Regions from separate parts of the Homo sapiens genome. Here region 2 is linked to region 1. A link means that fine-mapping ties the variant in region 1 to the expression of a gene that starts in the linked region. Tissue or cell type: left ventricle. Region 1 holds a variant in brackets; the other region holds the start of a gene. All regions are shown on one strand. Distances are from middle to middle.

The links. PIP is the estimated chance that this variant, and not a neighbour inherited with it, causes the effect.
Region 2: it holds the start of HMGB1, and the variant in region 1 is fine-mapped to the expression of HMGB1 in left ventricle (GTEx, PIP above 0.99).

Annotation. Positions count from the first base shown.
Region 1 is chr13:30,436,588-30,439,270 of GRCh38, forward strand. No RefSeq gene overlaps it. Among named protein-coding and RNA genes, the nearest start is that of UBE2L5, 15 kb to the left of the region's middle. The variant C/T (reference allele first, on the strand shown) is at 1,148.
Region 2 is chr13:30,464,513-30,467,195 of GRCh38, forward strand. HMGB1 (high mobility group box 1) reads right to left here and starts at 1,424. Exons shown (of 5, transcript NM_002128.7): 1 at 1,284-1,424. RefSeq lists silencers at 1-487, 1,087-1,396 and enhancers at 832-1,607, 1,608-2,383.

The sequences.
Region 1 (2,683 bases):
AAAAAAATACAAAAATTAGCCAGGCATGGTGGTGGGCACCTGTAATCCCAGCTGCTTGGGAGGCTGAGGCCGGAGAATGGCTTGAACCTGGGAAGCAGAGGTTGCAGTGAGTGGAGATTGCACCACTGCACTCCAGCCTGGGTAAGTGAATGAGACTTCATCTCAAAAAAAAAAAAAGATACCAGAATCTGTATTAAATACAATGAGTTTCTCACTCCCAGCCTCCTTTTCCTCTTTCTTTCCTTTTTTAATGACTCCATTGTTAAATAAGAAATGGATAATGTCAGCTTTCCCAATGGCACTAGTAGTATTTGTTGCTGTTTCATAAGTAATTTAGGAAAGCAACTGAAGCATAAAGGAGCTAATTATTTATTACTGTCTTCTCCTCTACTGGGTATCACTACAATCTTTAATATTAATGTCTTTCTTACAAGTGTAGGGTTGGAAAATTGAAGTCAGTGAGTTTCATTGATAAATTAAGCAGCTATGAAATGTTATCAGGTGACTAGCTGATCCTGATTTTATCATCAAACTAAAACAGTGCTTTGCTTAATGCATGCATTATCTAAATATTTAATCTAAGTGTGTGTTGATGTATTCTTAATTGTCATAGCACCTTCTTTAAGTGAATCTCTTTTAGGGTCATAAGCAGTTTGAGCTGGTTCTCATAAGTCAAGTGCAAGCTTACCAATCAACAGTTCGACAACCAGTGTGGTACGGACAAAACAGACTGAGCCGCGACAGAACAGCAGCCTGAGTGATGATAGCTGTGCTCAGAAGCCAGCCTAGCCAGAGCTGGCAATTCAGGCAATTCACAGGATAAATCAAAAGCCACAGTCTGGGAGCCTAGAATCAGCAGAGAGGTGTCTGATGTGGATATTGTCGGAAAGCGTGTGCATTGTACAGCCAGCGTATGTCAGAAGAAACATGGTTCTAGTACGTTGCTTTTCAAACTCTACAGGGTGTAGGCAGAGATCATTAAGCAAACAGATGTCAGAAAGGACAGAAAGCTCCTTACCTGGTTCAGCTACCACCTCTCTGTAAAGAAGAGTGCATAAAACCCACACAGATAACCCACCTCTACCCACCCATAGAACATCCTCACTCTAGGAGCATGAAAATACCTAGAGGTTTTCAAGTCTCTCGA[C/T]GGCCGTGTGAAAATTAGCCTAAAATCACATGTGCACAGGCTAAAGATGCAAACCATTTTCTCAAATGAGCACCACATCTTTTCAATTGTTCTGGAATTGGTGACACTACCATCATCCTCTTGATTCCTGTGGAATCTTCTTGGACCCTGACCTTAATGTCCATTTTGCCTGCCCCATGGTGACCCAGCCCCAGTGAGTGTTTTACCTCCAATGGCCGGGAAACCACAGAACACGCTGCCTAAAGCACCATTTATTTTTTATTGTTTGAGACAGGGTGTCACTGTGTTGCCCAGGCTGGAGTGCAGTGGCACGATCTCAGTTCACTGCAGCCTTCACCTCAGGCTCAAAGGATTCTCCCACCTAAGCCTCCTGAGTAGCTGGGACTATAGGCACACCACCACGCCTGGCTAATGTTTTTTTTTTTTATGTTTTGTAGAGATGAGGTTTTGGCATGTTGCTCAGGATGGTCTTGAACTTGTGGGCTCAAGCGATCAATCTGCCTTGGCCTCCCAAAGTTCTGGGACTACAGACATGAGCCACAGCACCTGGCTTTTTTTTTTTTTTTTTTTTTTTTTTTTGAGACAGGGTCTTGCTCTGTTGCCCAGGCTAGAGTACAGTGGTATGAACTCAGCTCACTACAGCCTTGAGCTCCTGGTCTCAGGCAATCTTCCCACCTCTGCCTCCCGACTACAGGTGTGAGCCACCACACCTGGCTAACTTATCACAGATATGAGCCACTGCACCTGGCCAAGCACCATTTTTGTCACTGTCAGTTTCCTGCTTGAGAAATTACAGTGGCTTCTGCATTACTTTAATAATTGTGTCCTCCTTATGACCCTTTGTAGTCTCCAAAGGCTGGGCTCCTCTTCTGTTGCTGAGCTAATCTATTTATTCTCCCCGCCTGCGCTTGGCTCATTCCTGGGCCCAAGCCTTACCACTTGCTACTCTTCCTCTAAATTTGGATTTCTTCCCCTCTCTTGTCCTCAAACCCACTGTCACTTTTGAATTTGAAGACATGTTGCTTTGCACGCCGCTCCTCTTTGGGGTACATCTGTGAGCACCTGCATGGCTAAGAGGGAGTGCTCAGTGAGAACCCAGTGAATGATGAAGGTGTATGTGAATGACGATTGGATGGGAGAGGCTGCCCAAGTGGAAAAGCGGTATTTGCTTTTCAGTACAGGAAAATTTCCGTGATATTTTTCTGGCACACAATAAAGAAAATGCTATATTGAAGCAAATTAATATATTTTAACTTTGTGTAGATGCAGTGGGAATTACTTTTTAAATGGTGTATGGAAATAAAAGAACTGGTTGAAAAGAACAATTTTTCAAATGAATGTGTCTAATGTCTCCCAACAGATAAGGAAGGGAATAGAAATTTGTGAAGAGGATCACACACCATCACTTTTACACACTCACTATGTGATTTCGCAGTAGAATTAGAAAAGTCAAATTTCATAGTCCAAATGTAGAAAATAGTAGGAATTAGGGCTGGGTGTGGTGGCTCACACCTGTAATACCAGCAATTTGGAAGG
Region 2 (2,683 bases), 28 kb after region 1:
GGAGAGAGGACGCGGCCCGGCTCCCAGGCCCGAGGCCGCCACGTGCGCCCGGCAGGCCCTGCAGGCCCGCGCCGCCGCCGCCCCCATTTTGTCAGGCTCGGCGCAGGGAGAAGCCCCGCTCGAAATGGGGGCTGGCTCCGCCCGCGGCCGCCGGGGCCGGCGCGCACGGAATGGCCGCTGCGCGTCTTCTCCGCCTGCGCCGCCGCCGCCGCGAGGGCGAGCGCGAGCGAGAATATGGCTCCTTCCCTTTGTGTGTGTGTGTGTGTGTGTGTGTGTATGAGAGAGTGTGTGAGTGCGAGGGTGCGGGCGCGGCGGCGGCGGCGGGCGGGGTGCGAGCCGCGCTCTGGCGCACACACTCGGCCATTACGGCCGGGGGAGGGGCGGGGGGCGCGCGGCCGGGCCCTCCCCTCCGCGCCGCTCCCCTCCCCCCGCCGCGGTGGGGGCCGCCCGAGGGCCCACCCGCCCGCCACTCCCCGTCTCCCTCCGCGCGGGCCGCGCGCCCCGCCGCCCCCGCACGGAGAACGCGGGGCTGTGAAAAGAGAGAGGAAAAAAAAAGTTGCCTCGGAACTGCTGCGCCCAGCTCCCCCGCCCGCCCGCCTTGTTTTCTCTCCAGCCAGCAGCGCCGGGCCCGAGTCAGCCATGTTCCAGCGAGCGCAGCGGCGCCGCTCCCCCCGCCGCCCGGCCGCCGCCGCCGCCGCGACCGGGCCGAGGCCGGCCGGGCCCGCACTGCCGCCCCCAGGCCCCCGCGCCGCCCTCGCCCGCCGCGGCGCCCCGCCCGCCCCGCCGCCCGCCCGGCTGGCCGCGCTCCCCGCCAGCGCCCGGCTCGCTGCGGCGGCGGCCAATGCAGCCCGGGGAAGCGCCGCCGCTGCCCTCCCGCCGCCGCCGCCGAGCCGCGCCGGCCCCGCCGCCCCGGCCGCGCTCCGCGCACGCCGCCCGCCCGAACGCCCGGCCCGAGGGCCCAAAACACGTTCAAAATTTTTTTAATTAAAAAAAAAATTTTTTTTTTTGCGCCAGTCAGCGCGGACGCCGCCGGGGGTGGAAACTCGCGGGGCGCGGGGCTCCCGGCGCCTCAGGCTGCCTGAGGGCCGGGGCACCGGCGCGGGGCAGCGTTCCCGGCGCCCGGGCAGAGGCTCGCTCCGTGCGCAGTTCCCCCCACGGTCCCCCCTCATTTGCCTTTGTGTGGATCCTGACCCGCCGGCTCCCGGCCGCGGGGATCCGGCCGCCGCGCGGGCTGGGGAGCTGCCGGAGGCGCTCTCCCCGCCGCGGCGCTGCCCCAGACTCACCCTCAGCGAGGCACAGAGTCGCCCAGTGCCCGTCCGGCTCTCACTTGCCCCGGTGCTGTCTCTATGGAGCTCAATGTACTGCAATGGCTGTGAGAGCGGGAGCCAGACGCAGCCTCCTCACTCTCTCCGCTCTGTAACATTACTCTCCAGCCAGCGCGGCTCCTATTGGCTACCGCCAACTCACGGGGCTCGCTCATTGGCCCGATACCTCCCATTGTCCTGACCAGAGCCCGTTTGCTATTGGCTGTCTCCGGGGACACGTCATCAAGGATTGAAACAGCGCGCAAATCTGAATGTGTGTGTATGCCGGGCAAAGAGGCTGAGGCGGGAGAGGCAGAGGCAGAGGCAGCAGCTGCTACGGGAAAGCAGAGCTCTATGGTGTATGTGTGCATGTGTCTAACCCAAGCCAGCCCCACACCGGAGCGGCCGCCGGAGCGAAAAGGGCCTGACTTTTCCACAAGTGTCTCCAACTCCTCAGGCAAAAGAGACACCCACAGGTCTCCCCCCCCCTTCTTGCCCCACATTCACGCCCAAAGCCGTTGAGATAAGAGGCCCCAGGCTTTTAATGGCCCTTCAAAAGTGAGGGCGACACTATGGGATCATGTCCCCTGAAAACTGGGGTCTCTGCTGGTGCTGAGGGGCGGAAGCCGCCGAGCCTCGAGCCCCTCAAAGGTCTCTGATTGCGTTACACTTTAGGTCTCTGGAAAGGCAGGGCTTCTATAAGAAAGTGACATGATCCAGCCAGCCGGGTTTAAAATACCCCTTTTCTGGGCTCATAAGCCGTCACGTCAGGCTCGCTGAGCAGCTGAAATCTTGAGTCAGTGAGCAGGCATTCAGTTTCACCCTTTTTCTTGGTTTGATCGAGTTTCACAGCATGTCTAGAACTTTTTATTTAAATACAAAGCACTGTCTTAACTTCCTGGAAATCAAATAATTATTCCATGTAATTAAAGAACAGCCACTTGGTTTGATATGGGGTACTCTAGCAGGAAATGTTTGTGAGGCCCTGGTAGAATTAGCAAATTCATTAGAGACCACATTCTAAACTGTTTGGCTATTTTATTTGACTTGGTGTGGATTACTGTTACAATCAAACGAATCCTTGTGATGCTATCTTTCCCTCCCATCACACCACTTAGTGCATCCATGTAACTGCTCTAGGATTACAGGAGTTGTAGGTATATGGTTACCCGAAGGATTAGATGCAGGCAGAGAGTGCATGTGCCCAAATCCACAGGCTGTGGTTTCTCTAACTCACCAAGCTGGCTGGTATTAATAGACATACTTACGTCTGTAGAGAAAATGTGCTGGCTGTAGTGGCCAGTTCTGAAGACTCTACAGTTATATCAGTCCTTTATGAAACTACTATCTATTCCTTTTAGCCTGAGCAGACCACGCCC